2 separate regions of the Homo sapiens genome follow, and region 1 is linked to region 2. The links come from fine-mapping of genetic effects on gene expression. A gene starts in region 2. The other region holds a variant in brackets. All regions are shown on one strand. Distances are between the middles of the regions. Region 1 holds the start of LOC124904577 (a long non-coding RNA gene). Region 2 holds the start of ZNF672 (zinc finger protein 672).

Region 1 (8,334 bases), 32 kb after region 2:
GAGCTTTGAAGAAGAGCAAAAGGCTTTGTTTAGCCTGAGCTGCACTTGGAGTGTACCAGTATTTGGAGTTTTGTTGAGAAGAGGTCAGCCAAGGGAAGAAGAAGGTGCTGGCAGGGAGGAAGACCAGAAACCTTGGGGTCAAGGGGCAGGGTGAAGGCCAAGAATTGGAGGCACGCAATCAGAGCAGTGACCCTGGTGGCTGTGGACGCCATCTGAGGGGCCATCTGGGGCCGCTATGTGCTGAGCACTCACTGTGCCTTTGGATGGGTGCTGTCCAGGAGTTTGAGATTGCCTTCCCTGACTTGGCAGATGGGTGTCATAATATTTTATTACTAGAAAAGCTGCTATGAAAATGCATAGCATATGTTTTTGGGTGAGTGGGCTTTTTAAATTTTTTAAATTGTATGTATAGGAGGTGAACAACATGGTATTTTGATGCACATAATGAAATAGGTATCAAATTGGCCTATCATTTTGCAGTTACCTCCCCCCTTTTTTGTTGTGAAACCGCCTAAAATCTACTCTCAGCAAATTTTCAGTCTATAATACAGTATTATAGTCCTAATGAAGGGCTTTCTGAGATGACACACAGTGCTGGACTTCCCTACCCAGTCACTGGCAGGCAGGACCTGTGAGGCTCCTGGTACAGAAGAGCCCTAGAAAAGAAGGGCTATGCCATGCACGTGCGTTTCTCCTTGCAAAATCACCTAGAAGATGCGGCAGGCGGGAAGAGAGACCAGGAAGGTTAGAGCCAATGGTACTTCTAAGGAGAAGAAGACAGAAGCCGAAGAGCTCCCTCCCTCCCACCCTCGTTGTAGTAACTTGTACTCATCCAGTGCATTTCACGTACCAGGAACGCCCCTAATTAATCTCTACAACAATGTTATAGGACAGATAAACACTATGATTTCCTTTCCACGGTAAGAAAATAAGGCACAATGGGGGGTACTCAGCCTTGCTGAAGGTAACGGAGGCGGCTCCCACTAGGCACTTGGACTCTAGAGTCCAAACGCTTGAACCACTGGGCTCACAGGAACAGGAGGTGAGGAAGTGGAGGTAGTCATCTCCGAGGAAGTTTTGCTGGGAAGAAGAGATGAGAAGTGGGAATACTGTTTCTTAGCTCCTTCTCCCAGCAAAGAGGGTCGAGAAATTTTGTTTAAGGTGAGGAAGAGATGGTCAAGGTGTGGGGGACATAGGGCCCCATCCCCCATTCCTGTACTGTGTCATGTTACATGTTACATTGGCCTGTTGGTAATGAATTGTTCTGATCTTCATCTTCCTCAAGTGTGGGGCTGGGGCCTCAGTCTACCCAACACCTGACACAGGCTCTCACCAACAGATGCTCAGGAAATGTGCTTTTGCTTCTTGCCCCTTCTCTTAGCCCACAGCTGTATCAGGTGGGTTTATCAGTACAGCAGTTTGGAGGTCAGGACCTGGTGATGCACAATCCCAGGATCACATCTCTATGGGAATTCTCAAATTTCATGACGCTTCAATTTTATCGCCTATAAAATGGGAGCATAGAGGCATGTGTGGCATGCTGCTACATCAGTGGATCTGAGGTGCAGCGATTCCTGTTAGCACCTCTTCACAGCCTCGGAGTGCTTAACTCACGGAGGCTTCATCCCATCTTGCGCTAGGCAAGTGGACTCTATGAAAGGGTTGTGTTTCCCTCCTCATCTGGATATGATTTTTGACAAGCATGACAACCCCACTGCCTTTTTAAAAATTTAATTTTTAATATTTATTTTATTATGAGACAGGGTTTTGCGCTGTTGCTCAGACTGGAGTGCAGTGGTGCAATCATAACTCACTGCGGCGTGGGACTCCTGGGCTCGAGCAATCTTTCTGTCTCAGCTTCCCTAGTAGCTACGACCACAGATGCACACCACCATACCCCGCTAATTTTTAACTTAATTTTTTTTTTCTCTGTAGAGATGTATTGCAGTGTTGCCCAAAATGGTTTTGAACTCTTGGACTTAAGCAGTCCTCCCTCCTTGACCTAAAGTGCTGGGATTACAGGCTTGAACCACTGCTCTTTGCCTTTTTTTTTGTTTGTTTTTGTGACACTCGTTCTAGCCCAGGCTGGAGTGCAGTGATGTGATCTTGGCTCACTGCAACCTCGACCTTCTCGGCTCAAGAGATCCTCCCACCTCAGCCTACCAAGTAGCTGGGACTACAGGTGTGTCCCACCATGCCCAGCTAATTTTTGGATTATTTTGGAGGCGGGGTTTCCCTGTGTTGCCCAGGGTGGTCTTAAACTCCTGGGCTCAAACGATCCCCCTACCTCGGCCTCCCAAATTGCTGGGATTACAGGCATGAGCCACCATGCCTGGTTATGCTTCCAGCCTTTAGACATCTTTTAAAATTGACATATTGTAATTGTACGTATTTGTGGGGTGTGGAATCAACCCATCTGTAGATGCTCCTACTCTGCCTGGCAGGAAGAGCGGAGATGACCTTCTTGGGCTGTCAAGGTCTTGCTGTGTCAGCAGGGGGCAGCAGCTACCAGAAAGTGCGCAGAGCCTGGGCTCTGCATTTCCCTGCGCGCACTGCGTGTTGACCCTCCAAGCCTGCGTGGTCAGCCTCATGGGCACTTTGCAGAAGGGCCTGAAAAACTGCACATAGAAGGGTGGGGGTGTGTATACATCAGAATGGAACCCTATTTGTACTTGTCATGGGCCTCTTGCATTCCCGTGTGTCCTCGGAATCACCTATTGCGTGTGAGAGCTGGCTCAAGTCTGCAGCGCAGCTGGTCTCAGGAGGTAAGATGTTCGATATGTAGATGTACCCTGTTCTCCTCAGAGCTCACCTCCTTCCTTGGCCTCCCTAGTGTCTTTTCCCTCTCCCTTTCCACAGCCTCTTTATAAATTTCTCCACCCACGCCTGCTCACCATTCCTGAGCCCCAGGCTGCAACACATTGCTCATGCCCTGGGATAAGGGAACCAGGAGACCATACACTGGCTGGCAAATGGATATGTGTAGTTTACTAAGAAATGTTCACCAGGATCTTTCAGTGTACAAACACTGTGGTAGGCCTTGTTAGGAACACTATAAACTGTAATGCCATGGGTGGGTCTTCCAGGTAAGGAATGCAGGTGTGCACAGGTGGTGCAGGGCAGTGAAAAATACATAACCAGGCCAGGAGCAATGGCTCACAGCTGTAATCCCAATGCTTTGGAAGGCCAAGGTGGGAGGCTCACTTGAGGACCAAGTTTGAGGCCAGCCTCAGCATCATAGTGAGAACCCGACTCTACAAAAAGTAAAAAAATTAGCAATGCGTGATGGCATGCACCTGTAGTCCTAGCTACTCCTGAGGCTAGTGGGAGGATCTCCTGAGCCCAGGAGTTTGAGGCTGCAGTGAGCTATGATCACACCACTATTTCAGAATGGGTGACAGAGGGACAACCTATTTCTAAAAATAAGTAAATAAATAACTAATGAGGGCTGCAGTCAAGGAAAAATCTGGGAGGTTACAGCTGGGCATTGCTCTCCGAAGCTCTGAACCAGCCCCTTGGTCTCAGACTGGAGAAGTGGTGCCTGGCTCCCAATCCTCACTCTTCCCAAATCTGTCTTGAGCTCCCAGGGCCTGTGTCTCACCCATCTTGGTGTTCTCAGGACCTGGAATGTGGAAATTTTCACCAAACAGCTGTCTACTGACTTACTTCTGCTTGTGCTACCCTTGGCACAAGTTTCCTCCCTTCTCAAACTGTCAAACTGCTGCCTGTGGTTTGAGGACCAGATCATGTGGTCAAAAGTCCACATGAGCTGGGATTCAACCACAGGCACCTCTCTAGCCCAGTCTGAATTAATCCTTATCACTCTCAAGTTCCCCATGGCTCTTTTGACTTACTGAAGAATGGGCCGGTTGTTGTAGACATGTCTCTTGTTGGTCCTAAGTCCTCAGAAGAAGGGGTCAGTATCATCCTTGACTCCATCTCACTCAACACATAACACAATAGACATATGTACAGGGACCATACGTGATGCATAGTCTAAATTGGGACAGCTGAGTGTGAAAGGGGGCAGGTGTGGCCTGGGACTGACTTGGGTGATCTAGGACATATGGTCACCCTCATTCTAGGTGCTCAGTAAACATTAGTTCTTTTGAGAGCTTCGGTGTTAAAAACACTGACCACACTATTCAGAGAGGGTTGCCCTTGGCCTGCCCCTGCCACAAGGGGTTATGTGCACAGGGACAATTCACTCAGCTCCTCTGGGCCTCAGTGTTCCAATCTGCCGGAAGTGTGGACAGACTCAGTAGATAACCTCTAAGGTTATCTAAAGCACTAAAATTATACAGCTGGCAGTGGAGGCTGGGCCATGCGAAGAGTTCTGATGGATGATGTGAAATGGTGCATGTGTTTGCAGACAGGGTTAGGGGTTGGAGCATGAGAAACCTGAGCAAGTCCAGAGTTGGTTAGGACCCAGCCCGGAGGGAGCAGAGGGCTGCTGGATATTTCTGCTTGGGTGTGAGATGATCATCGTCCAGAGGTCGAAGAGCTCAGAGTGCTGGGCAGTAGTTTCTCTT[T/C]CTCCAGGCAGGCAGGTGGCTTTCACTGCACAGTGCAGATACGCTTCTTGATTTATTCAAACATAGGAGGAAGGGAGTGTCAAAATGAGTTTCTTCCCCATTTAGAAAAGAGGAACCTTCTTGGTCTAGGGTAGAGTGGAGCAGCAGAGCTGCCTTCTTCCTCAGCTGCGGCTTCATCTTCCATGCTCCTTCCAGGCCACCCCATCCTGTTTCGTCTCTATGATTTCTGCAATAACATGCAGAAGAGCTGGATCATCTTCACACTGACACAAGGAAATCTCAGTTGTGCCACGGCCTGCTTTTTTCCAGCAGGAATTCTTAAGGGCCTGGGGGCCTGGGGCAGCAGTGAAGGCTGGAGGAGGCTCATGGAGCTGTACAGGTTCGCAGGGGCTGCTGTGGTTTAGGGAAGAAGGAGAGGATGTTGCTTAATGTCACCTGCCTTGTGTGCTAACCTCAGTGTTGCTATGGTTTCAGCCTCCCACTCCACTTGGAGAGAGAGGCCAGGAGCCCACCTGCCTCTGCAGCCCACCTGCCTCTGCAGCCCAGGGTGGGAATGTAACCGTTGCTGCTGTACTCACATCTGACCTTCCTTCAGCTGATCTTCGCCCCTTTTACCAGATCTCCTCTTTCACTTTACAATTTCAGAAGCCTCAGATTACAATCCTCTCCATTCCCTCAAACAGTTGCATCTGGCAATAGTGACCATGGCTGCCCCATTGGAAGGGACTGTTAACAGAAAAGGGCATGAGGCCTTAGGAGGAGGGGAGCTACGTCTTCATAACACTAACAAAAACAAACCCGAGGTTAAATAAAGTGAACCAGGTATTTAGTTCACCTGCCACCTGGGATATACTTTTTAATTTTTTCTGGGTTGGTTAAAAATATATTTAGGGCCGGGCACGGTGGCTCACGCCTGTAATCCCAGCACTTTGGGAGGCTGAGGCGGGCGGATTACCTGAGCTCAGGAGTTGGCAACCAGCCTGGGCAACATGGCGAAACCCCTTCTCCACTAAAATACAAGAAATTAGCCGGGCTTGGTGGCGTCCACCTGTAGCCCCAGCTACTCAGGAGGCTGAGGGAGGAGAATGGCGTGAACCTGGGAGGCGGAGCTTGCAGTGAGCTGAGATCGCGCCACTGCACTCCAGCCTGGGTGACAGAGTGAGACTCCGTCTCAAAAAAAAAAATGTATATACATACATATGTATATATATTTAACGACACTTTCAGAGAGAATGTGACAGAGATAAAAGCTGAATAAGAATGACAGGAAAACTGATCTGGAAGCATAAATGATGAGGATGAGAGAAAACATCTGCAGCTAGACAAACCCAAAAGACTTGGAGAAAGTGACAAAAGTGAAGCAGCAGAGACGAGGAGAGACGTGAAAATACACGCTGGAGGGAGGGACATCAGAGACGAGAAGAGGAAAGCCTCATAGGTGACTGGGACATCAGAGATGAGAAGAGGAAAACCTCGTAGGTGACTGGGACATCAGAGATAAGAAGAGGAAGGCCTTGTAGGTGACCGGGACATCAGAGACAAGAAGAGGAAGGCCTCGTAGGTGACCAGGACATCAGAGACAAGAAGAGGAAAGCCTCGTAGGTGACCGGGACATCAGAGACGAGAAGAGGAAGGCCTCGTAGGTGACCAGGACATCAGAGACGAGAAGAGGAAAGCCTCGTAGGTGACCAGGACATCAGAGATGAGAAGAGGAAAGCCTCGTAGGTGACCGGGACATCAGAGACGAGAAGAGGAAGGCCTCGTAGGTGACTGGGACATCAGAGATGAGAAGAGGAAAGCCTCGTAGGTGACCGGGACATCAGAGACAAGAAGAGGAAAGCCTCGTAGGTGACCGGGACATCAGAGATAAGAAGAGGAAGGCCTCGTAGGTGACCGGGACATCAGAGATGAGAAGAGGAAAGCCTCGTAGGTGACTGGGACATCAGAGACAAGAAGAGGAAAGCATCGTAGGTGACCGGGACATCAGAGATAAGAAGAGGAAAGCCTCGTAGGTGACCGGGACATCAGAGATGAGAAGAGGAAAGCCTCGTAGGTGACCGGGACATCAGAGATGAGAAGAGGAAAGCCTCGTAGGTGACCGGGACATCAGAGATGAGAAGAGGAGAGCCTCGTAGGTGACCGGGACATCAGAGACAAGAAGAGGAAGGCCTCGTAGGTGACCGGGACATCAGAGATGAGAAGAGGAGAGCCTCGTAGGTGACCGGGACATCAGAGACAAGAAGAGGAAGGCCTCGTAGGTGACCGGGACATCAGAGATGAGAAGAGGAGAGCCTCGTAGGTGACCGGGACATCAGAGACAAGAAGAGGAAAGCATCGTAGGTGACCGGGACATCAGAGATGAGAAGAGGAAAGCCTCGTAGGTGACCGGGACATCAGAGATGAGAAGAGGAAAGCCTCGTAGGTGACCGGGACATCAGAGACAAGAAGAGGAATGCCTCGTAGGTGACCGGGCTGGTAGCACAAATGATACTCATACGTGCCAGGACTCTAGCTGAGCCCGAGTTAGATTTACAGCCCTCCTTATCTTGACCTATCTCCAAGTTCCTAGGTGAAGTGGCTGTTCCCAGTGCTGCCTGAATCCTTCAGCTGACTGCCGGCCAGAGGTTTATGGCTCTGATCAGGAAGATCACTGATGAGTCTTGTTTCAGACAGGTCCCACCCTCTGTTGGCTCCAACAGTGTTTGATATCCAACAATAGGAAACCAGATTCTGTGAGTGAACTCAAGCTATAGGCAGGACCCGTGGAAGGCACAGGGGAAAGGAGTTGTCTTCCCAGGAAATCTTGGATTTCCCCCTGGAAGTAGGTATCCTATGTACCAGGTGGGAGAGGACTGAGGAGAATGTGCCTTAGGACATGGCTGAGAGCCTCTCTACAGCTCTGCACCATTAATTCCGTGTGGATTTGTGTACCTGGAGCCCAGGGAAAACTAAAGCCCCTCTAATCAAAATGGTGTTTCTTTCTCGAGGTCCTGCTGGTTGTGAGAGATTTATGCTTCTGTGTGGGATATGTTCTTTCACCTATAAACATCAAAATCCCACAGTGAAATGGGAACAGAAAAATGTTTATTCCCCACCCAACCTTCATCTTAAACATGGTTCAATAGGAAGGTATCACTCAGAGACCCTGGCCCAGGGAGGATCCTTCTATGACTCTAGTTCCTAAAATGTGTTCTCTAGATCAACAATATAAACATCACCAGAAACTTGTTAGACATGCAAATTCTCAGCCCCCTACCTCCACTCCTCTGCCCACAGCAATACTGCATTAGAAATGCTGGGAGTGGACCCCAGCAGCTTTCAACAAACCCCTAGAGTGATTCTAGTGTACCCTGGAGTTTGAGAACCTCATCTTTCCGGCAGGTGGAAGGGATGTGGCAAACAGTGCACAGGGGTCCCAAGACTTGTCCCTTCACTCACCTTTCACTGGCCAAAGCAAGTCACCTGGCCTTGCTCCCCCATTGCCTTCTGCCATGATTGGATGCTTCCTGAGGCCTCCGCAGAAGCAGAAACCACTATGCTTCCTGTATAGCCTGCAGAACTACGAGCCAATTAAAACTCTTTTCTTTATAAATGACCCAGTCTCAGGTATTTCTTTATAGCAATGTGAGAACAGACTCTTGAAATATTTGCACACCCATATTGAAGCAGTATTATTCACAATAGTTAAGAGGTAAAAGCAACCCAAATGTCAATTGACAGATAAATGGACAAACAAAATACGTTATATACAATTGAATATTATTTAACGTTAAAAAGGAAGGAAATTCTGACATATGCTACA
Region 2 (8,334 bases):
GCACCAGAATTGCCCCTCCTTGCTTCCTTCCCCCATAAAGAAACAAAATCCAATACTTCAAAAGAAGTTGCTCCTTCCAGCTTCAGATTCAGTCTCTAGCTAAGGAGCTGGTGGAAATAGGAATGACAGTTTGCTCTCAGCCCAAGTGCTCAAGTCTGATCATGAGCCAACACATTCTTTTTATTTTGGAGGCAGAGTCTCACTCTGTCTCCCAGGCTAAAGTGCAGTGGCGCCATCTCAGTGTGATCTCGGCTCACTGCAACCTCTGCCTCCGAGGTTCAAGCGATTCTTGCGCTTCAGCCTCCCAAGCAGCTGGGATTACAGGCTCGAGCTACCACAGCTAATTTTTGTATTTTTAGCAGACACGGGGTTTTGCCATGTTGCCCAGGCTGGTCTTGAACTCCTGGCCTCAGTTGATCCTCCTGCTTCAGCCTCCCAAAGTGCTGGCATTACAGGTGTGAGCCACCGTGCCGAGCCCAAATATATTCTTTTGAAAGTTTTGGTTTCACAAAGATTTTCCTGTGAAATCTGGGAAGTATAGAGAAGGTATGGATGTAGACAAGGAGAGAACATACATAGTGGGAGCTTGCCCTGTCCTTTTGAGACACAGGCAACAGGATGTAGGCAAGGAGAGAACATACATAGTGGGAGCTTGTCCTGTCCTTCTGAGACACAGGCAACAGGATGTAGACAAGGAGAGAACATACATAGTGGGAGCTTGTCCTGTCCTTCTGAGACACAGGCAACATTGAAGCCCAGAGTGGCCAGAGCCCCCCAGATCAGAGAGAAAGGACTATAAGGTCTTTCACACCTTCCCTGGGCCTAGCAAGGACTTGGGCACACAGAAGATACTCAGTGCTTTTTAAAAGTGATGTATTAGTCTGGAATCCAATTTTCCCAAATGTTAGGTCCCTGGAGGAAAGGGCCTGACTACAGTCATCATATCCTCCACAGCACTACCCACTGCATACAAATACTCTGACTACAGTCATCGTACCCTCCACAGCACTACCCACTGCACATACAAGTACTCTGACTACAGTCATCATATCCTCCACAGCACTGCCCACTGCACATACAAATACTCTGACTACAGTCATCGTACCCTGAACGGCACTGCCCACTGCACATACAAATACTATGACTACAGTCATCGTACCCTCCACAGCACTACCCACTGCACATACAAATACTCTGACTACAGTCATCATATCCTCCACAGCACTACCCACTGCATATACAAGTACTCTGACTGCAGTCATCATATCCTCCACAGCACTACCCACTGCACATACAAATACTCTGACTACAGTCATCGTACCCTGAACGGCACTGCCCACTGCACATACAAATACTATGACTACAGTCATCGTACCCTCCATGGCACTACCCACTGCATATACAAATACTCTGACTACAGTCATCATATCCTCCACAGCACTACCCACTGCATATACAAGTACTCTGACTGCAGTCATCATATCCTCCACAGCACTATCCACTGCACATACAAATACTCTGACTACAGTCATCATATCCTCCACAGCACTGTGCACTGCACATACAAATATTCTGCTTTGGTTTACTAGTTGAGCCTGCAACCTGTGTAGCAGAACCAGAGAGGCATCCAAATTCTGGTTCCTCCCATTACTAGCTGTCTGATCTTAGACAGTAGACTTGGAATGTCTGATCCTCCTGGATGGGAAAACTTTAGTAAAGAAAGTTGGCCAGGCACGGTGGCTCACGCCTGTAATCCTAGCACTTTGGGAGGCCGGGGTGGGCAGATCACCTGAGGTCAGGAGTTCGAGACCAGCCTGGCCAATATGGTGAAACCCCGTCTCTACTAAAAATACAAAAAAGTAGCCAGGCATGGTGGCACGCGCCTGTAGTATTGGCTAACTCGGGAGGCTGAAGCAGGAGAATCGCTTGAACCCGAGAAGCAGAGGTTGCAGTGAGCCGAGATAGTGCCACTGTACTCCAGCCTGGGCGACAGAGTGAGACTCCATCTCAAAAAAATAAATTAAAAAAAGCTATTATTATAGTGTTTCATATGGAAAGGTCAAAATATTGCTAAATCTTGCCGGGCATGGTGGCTCACGTCTGTAATCCCAGCACTTTGGGAGGCCAAGGCGGGCGGATCACTTGAGGTCAGGAGCTCGAGACCAGCCTGGCCAACACAGTGAAACCCTGTCTCTACGAAAAATACAAAAATCAGCCAGGTGTGGTGGCGCCCGTCTGTAGTCTCAGCTACTGGGAAGGGTGAGGTGGGAGGATCACTTGAGGCCAGGAGGCGGAGGTTGCAGCGAGCCGAGATCGCGCCACTGTACTCCAGCCTGGACGACAGAGCAAGACTCCGTCTCAAAAAAAAAAAAAAAAAAAAAAAATTGCTAACACTGAGAATTGCGGTTGCCCGGTGCTTAGGATTTACTCTGCCTAGGACAGTCCTTCTTGTTGTTGTTGTTTGTTTGTTTTTTGAGACAGGGTCTTGCTGTCACCCAGCTTGGAATGCAGTGATTTGATCACTGTCTCACTGCAGCCTCGCCCTCCTGGACTCAAGCAACCCTCCAGCCTCAGCCTCCTGCGGAGCTGGGACTATGAGCAGGTGCTACCACACCCGGCTAATTATTATTATCATTATTTTTTTTGTAGAGACGAGGGTTCTCACCATGTTGCCCAGGCTGGTCTTGAACTCCCGAGCTCAAGAGAGCCTCCCACTTTGGCCTCCCAAAGTGCTAGGATAACAGGCATGAGCCACTGTGCCCGGCCCTGGGCAGTTCTTAAGAGCGACTCTGAGTAAGGGGCTTAACTCCTGTCTCCACTCCAGGCATCCTAAACGGTCTGCAGCCGTTTTCAGTCCTTCCCCCTCAACCCCTAAGAATCCCTCACATGATTAGAACAGCACAGCATGGGCCTTCCATAGCTCCACTTGCGCGAACTGTGGGCTCCAAGATGAAAGAAGGGAAGCTGGCTACTCATCTGGGGACTTGGTGCCTGGTACTTAAGAGCGAAGCACAACTATTCGCCGAATGCGGAACACGGCACCTGAACAGGTCGCTTTCCGTGGCCCACAGCAGCGCAGCCAATCCTGGGGCGCCTCAGTCGGCGCGCGTCACAAGTTGCTGGGCAAACTTTCTTTGAGCGAGCCCCTTCCCAACCCCGAGCCTACCCTAGCCCCTTGCCCGTGGCGCCAGCCGACTTGGAGGGCGAGACCGGGCACCAAAAACGTAGTGGGGAACGTTTAACGCTGCCAGAACCCGGTGGCGGCCGTTGCCCCCTTAAGTCGGCTCAGCCTGGCGACGTTTGTCGTGGTGACGCCAGCCCCGAAAAGGTCACCCGAGGCGGACCAGCGAGGACAGGCGGAGGGGAAGGCCTGGGAGGAGCAGGCCGCGCGGACGTGTCCGGCCAATCGCTCGCCCCGCAGTATCCCCGCGTCACTCGCAGCCCGGGCGGCGCTCCCGACCGCCGCAGACACCAGTCGCCCGAGGCAGATGGGAGAAGACTAGCCACAGCTGAGGACTGCTGCCCCGAGCCACCCTTGCCCTCCCCTGCCCTTCAGTCCCCTCACCGGTCGCCGACTGCCTCCTCAGACACCGCGCGGTTCCCACTCAGCCGGCTGCCGACCCCCGCCTCCCGGACTGCGGGACTGGGGCGGGGGAGCGAGGAAGGGGCTAACGGCGCGCGCGGCCTCCGAGTGGGGGGAGCGGGGAGGCGCCCGAGCGTCCGGCCCCTCGGGATGGGGAGGTCACGCTCCTGTCCCTCTCGCCCGCGTCGGCTAGTGGTCAGTCTGGCGCGGGCAGTGTCACCGGTTGCTGGGAAGACTGGGAGGCCAGCGAGCAGCGTACCAACCACTCAGCCTCTCCGGCCCCAGCTGGAGCCGGGAAGCAGGCGGGGCTAAAAGAGAAAGCCTGCGGGGGGACTCCACTCCCGCCTCCCGCGCGGGCCAAGGCCCCGCCCTCTCTTCTGGCTTAACCAATTCCTGCCTCCCGCTTTGTCTGTTGGCCCACCCCTGGGCCTCGTCCCGCCCAATCAGAGGAAAGGGCGCCGATCCCTGCGCGCGCCTCAGCCCCCAGCCGCGGAGTCCCGGGAGCTAGGCGGTCCACCGTCTAGTCTTCCAGCAGCTCTTCCCGCGGCCGCTGGCGGGACACAGACAGGTGTACCCTTCGGTGCTTCCGGCGCGGTAGCCGGTGCCCGGCGCGGACGGGGCCGCGGCAGCCATCCCCGTAGTTAAGTTAGCGCCTTCTTATTAAGTGAGGCCAGACTGGATAGCTATTATCTCTCAACCCTCACCACAACCCTGCCAGGGGAAATATGAGCATTTATCCTGTATTTTAGGTAAGGACCCCACAAGTTAATGATACGCCCAAAGTCGCAATGCCAGGGATAGGGGTTACTCCTGGTCGGCTTGCCAGCTGCCTCTCCATGAGCTTCCTGGTTGAACTGCCTGTCCAAATGTTGACCCTAATGTCTTCTACTAGGAAATGCTACTAGTATTCCTTTCCGGAAATGCATTTTGGGAACCTGGCCATCCTTTAGTGTGCCTATATCATCAGAACAGACGCCCAGGGATGGCCCTCAAGGTCCTTTACTGCTGTAATCTTCCTTTGGAGGTCACTTAGTACCACTCTTCTGAGCTCTGCTCAGGGGGTCCCCTAATTAGTGTACTTCGACCTGCCATGCTTGGCCTGGAAAACTCTTACCCTCTTCTCTGTTTTAATTTGTAAAACCTTAGTCAAATGCCATCTCCATAAACCTATGCTAGAATGCCCCTCTCTGTCCTCAGTCCTGGGGACATATCTATGCTGCAGCGCAACCTCCCGCATGTTGATACTGTTGTTATAGTCAGATGAATACTGTTCCCCCATAGCTTAAGGGACAGGCCTTGTCCTACTCATGAACAATTGATCCCTTGAAGCATGAGCAGAGGGCCAGCACGCCACAGATGATCAATGAGTGTTTGCTGACCCGCATATGACAACACGGATTAAGGAAGACAAATCTGGTAGCAGCAGGCAAGAAAGCTGAAAAGCAAGACACAGGATGCAGGTCTGGAGTGATCAGGGCCTGAACCAGGAAGGGATAACATTGAGAGAGACATGGAAAATGCGCTTGAAGTATATATATTTTTATTGTAAAGAATCATACACAGATAAGGTAGTATTATATAGAGAATGATTAGTTGAGGATATTTCCAGAGTCTTTAAGCCAGAGAAATGTACTAATTTAGACATTTCTGGACTCATTGCTCAGTACTGATGTCATGTTTTTAAGGACACTGACACACTTGGCTAATCCCAGAGACATGAAGAGGATGGTGACTAGGGTGGTCACATAATTAAAGGGGCTGGGGATATTTAACCTAGAAAGAGAAACATTTTTTGTGCACATAATGACTGTACACAAATTCTAACAAACTTTCATGTGAAAGAGGACTGGATTAGATGACTTTCTTCTGTGTAGCTTTGGAGGGAAAAACTCAAACAATGGGGGGAAAGAACAGGAAGCTGGATTTAGGTTTCCTATGTTATGGAAGTCATCACAGTGGGGGATGATAATTGTAACAGGAAGATGGAGGGTAGTGAAAGAAAGTTCAAGGATGAAGTTATGTGTATATTTGTCAATTAAAAATATCACATCCAAATGGTTTTATTTCTCTACACATCTACATCAATAAATGACAACTCTTAATGTGGTTCTGTAAATACTCAAAATGTTTATGGAAGGTCTACTATATGCCAGGTAGTATTCTAGACGTTGGAGATAACAGCTGTGAACCTACCAGATGAATCTCCCCAAAGTTCTGATTGTATCACATTCCTGCTCAGTAATAGTCAAAAAAGTCTGTACAATCACCAAATGAAGTTTACTCTTCTGGTGTAATATTCAAGACCCTCTTTCACCTATTCCAACCTGTCTTTCCAGTCTGTTCTCTTAAACTCTCCATTAAACTGGATCACTCCCCACCTACCTTCTACGTTTCTCTCAGCTTGGCATACACTTCTCCTGTTCCTTCACTTTTTCTTGTCTACCAAAGTCCTACTTATCCTTCAGACTTCTGTTCAAACACCAACCCACTCTCAAAGTGAAAACTATCTTCTTTCTGAAGACCACTAGTATTGTTCACCCAGAAATTCCCTAAGTATTTATTATCTTTGCAAGCCACAAGATGCATAAGACACTTACTCTGTTATTTACATCCTTTACCATGTACTTCAAGATAGAGTGTTGCTCTGTCACGCAGGCTGGAGTGCAGTGGCATGATCTCGGCCCACTGAAGCCGCTTCCCAGGTTCAAGTGATTCTTGTGTGTCAGCATCCCAAAGAGCTGGGACTACAGGCACGCACCAACATGCCTGGCTAATTTTTGTAATTTTAGTACACATGGGGTTTCACCATGTTGCTCAGGCTGGTCTTGAACTCCTGGCCTCAAGTGATCTGCTGTGTTCGGCCTCCAAAAGTGCTAGGATTACAGGCAAGAGCCAACATGCCTGGCCACCATGTACTTTAGAATAATGTGCATACTTTATTTCTCCTACTAAATTATAAGCTTGAGGGCAGAGTCAGAGGCTGGATGCACATTTCTGAACACCTGCTATGTGCAAAGAAATGGGCTGAGTATCGGAGACAAAATGGAGACTGAGTCCTTTGAGGACATGCTGAGGGATGGCAACCGCTCCCCCCGCCCACAGACCTTGCCATCCCATCATGTGCAAAGTACAAAGTGGTATAAAGGTACAACAGGAAGAATAGGGTAATTCTGCAATAGGTCATCAGTAAACTTCATTGGCTCAGCATGTAGCCAAGATTTTGTATAGGGATCTGTGGATGGAGGTGACAATGATTTTCACCTCCCACCACACACCCCCAGTGGCAGATTTCTGCAATATAAGTGATGGGACTGGGTCAGGCAGAGGGATTAGATGAACAGGAAGGGAGTGAGCATGCACTCAATCCAGACTGAGTGAGTGGAGGAGGCTCAGAATCCTGTGGAAGATGCTGAGTGGGGTGGGACAGGAATTCAAGAAGGTAGAGTGGGTGAAGGTATTGGAAGAGGAAATGCAAATAAGTTTTGGGCTAAATCAAGGAATTCCTCCTTTTCAGAAGCTTTTATTGAGGACCCACTGAGTCTGCACCTGGCTGGGTAATAGAAATATAGAGATGAATAAATTATGTTCCTTTACAGTATAGAGTCTATCCCATACCCAAGGGTGTAGGCCTCCCTCAGTGAGAAGAGGAGGAGCCATGGTGTATCAGGATTTGTAAAGACTAGGAAGTTAGAGGCGAATACGCGAAGCCGTGGGCGTGGATGACATTTCTAAGAGGCTATAGGTGGATTAGTAGGGGCTGAAGGCACCATACCTAGAGCACCAGCCTCCAAAAGGAAGCAGCTGCAGAAGGGGAAGCCAGTAAAGGCTTTGGGGAGGAAGAAGGTCAGGACACGGTCAGGTTTTAGATTCCCATGTGAGGAAGTGGTGGACAATGTCCAATGCTGAAGTAAGTCAAACAGCATCAAGGTGGTTATGTTTGGCTAGAGGGCACTGTCAGTGGTTTATGAAGTGAGACAGAAAGGAAGGGAAGTAAAAGTTATAGGCATGCAGAGCAGGCACATAGTACATGGCTTACGTTGCTGTTGGGGGCAACTGAAAGGCAAGTAAGTAGGGCTAAGGTATAGACCACTATTTCAAATCCCTGTCTGAAATGTGAGCCCAGTGGATATTCACAATGCCAAAAATCAGATGCTGAAGGCTTACTGTGTTACTGGGGGTATAAGGACTGAGAAGACTGTTTCAATTTCATGAATCTTATTCCTGTATTGCTAAATACAATGTTTGCCATTCTTCAAACATTCTAATTTCAGTTACAATAAAAATATTGGCTTCTAGAGCATGGTAGCTTCCAGTTCTTCCCCGAATAATTCCACAGATGTCAACTGACACAGTTTTCAAATACAGGAAAGAACCAAGTACAGAAAAGTGAAATCTAACAATTTAGAATAATAAGATCTGGAAAGACTGGCTGACTAAATCCTGAAATGAAGATTTTATTTAGTGTTTAAGGAATAAGGGTTTGTATTAATTGCAAGTTGCAAACATATTGTAAAGCCATATCAAAATGGATTTCAGGAAACAAGAAGATAAGCAAAAACATAAATTGAATCAATAACACACATATTAATCTTAATGGCTTGACACAGAGGATTTAATGTCTTTTAAACAGTAATCTTAATAGAAAATTATTGGAGTTTGTGCTGCTTACAGTCTGTGGTCAACTTCAAGGGCTCAAACACGATTCCATCGGAGAGAATGCTACTTTAATTATTTTTACATTTGTACAGGTA

The links.
Region 1: its variant is fine-mapped to the expression of ZNF672 in whole blood (TOPMed, PIP above 0.99).

Annotation. Positions count from the first base shown.
Region 1 is chr1:248,801,480-248,809,813 of GRCh38, reverse strand. LOC124904577 (a long non-coding RNA gene) reads left to right here and starts at 2,296. Exons shown (of 2, transcript XR_007067008.1): 1 at 2,296-2,765. RefSeq lists enhancers at 4,352-4,561, 5,970-7,169. The variant T/C (reference allele first, on the strand shown) is at 4,533.
Region 2 is chr1:248,833,783-248,842,116 of GRCh38, reverse strand. It overlaps ZNF672 (zinc finger protein 672), which reads right to left and starts at 3,893. Exons shown (of 4, transcript NM_024836.3): 1 at 3,566-3,893. RefSeq lists enhancers at 2,571-2,650, 2,991-3,260, 2,958-3,457, 3,458-3,959 and a silencer at 3,551-3,950.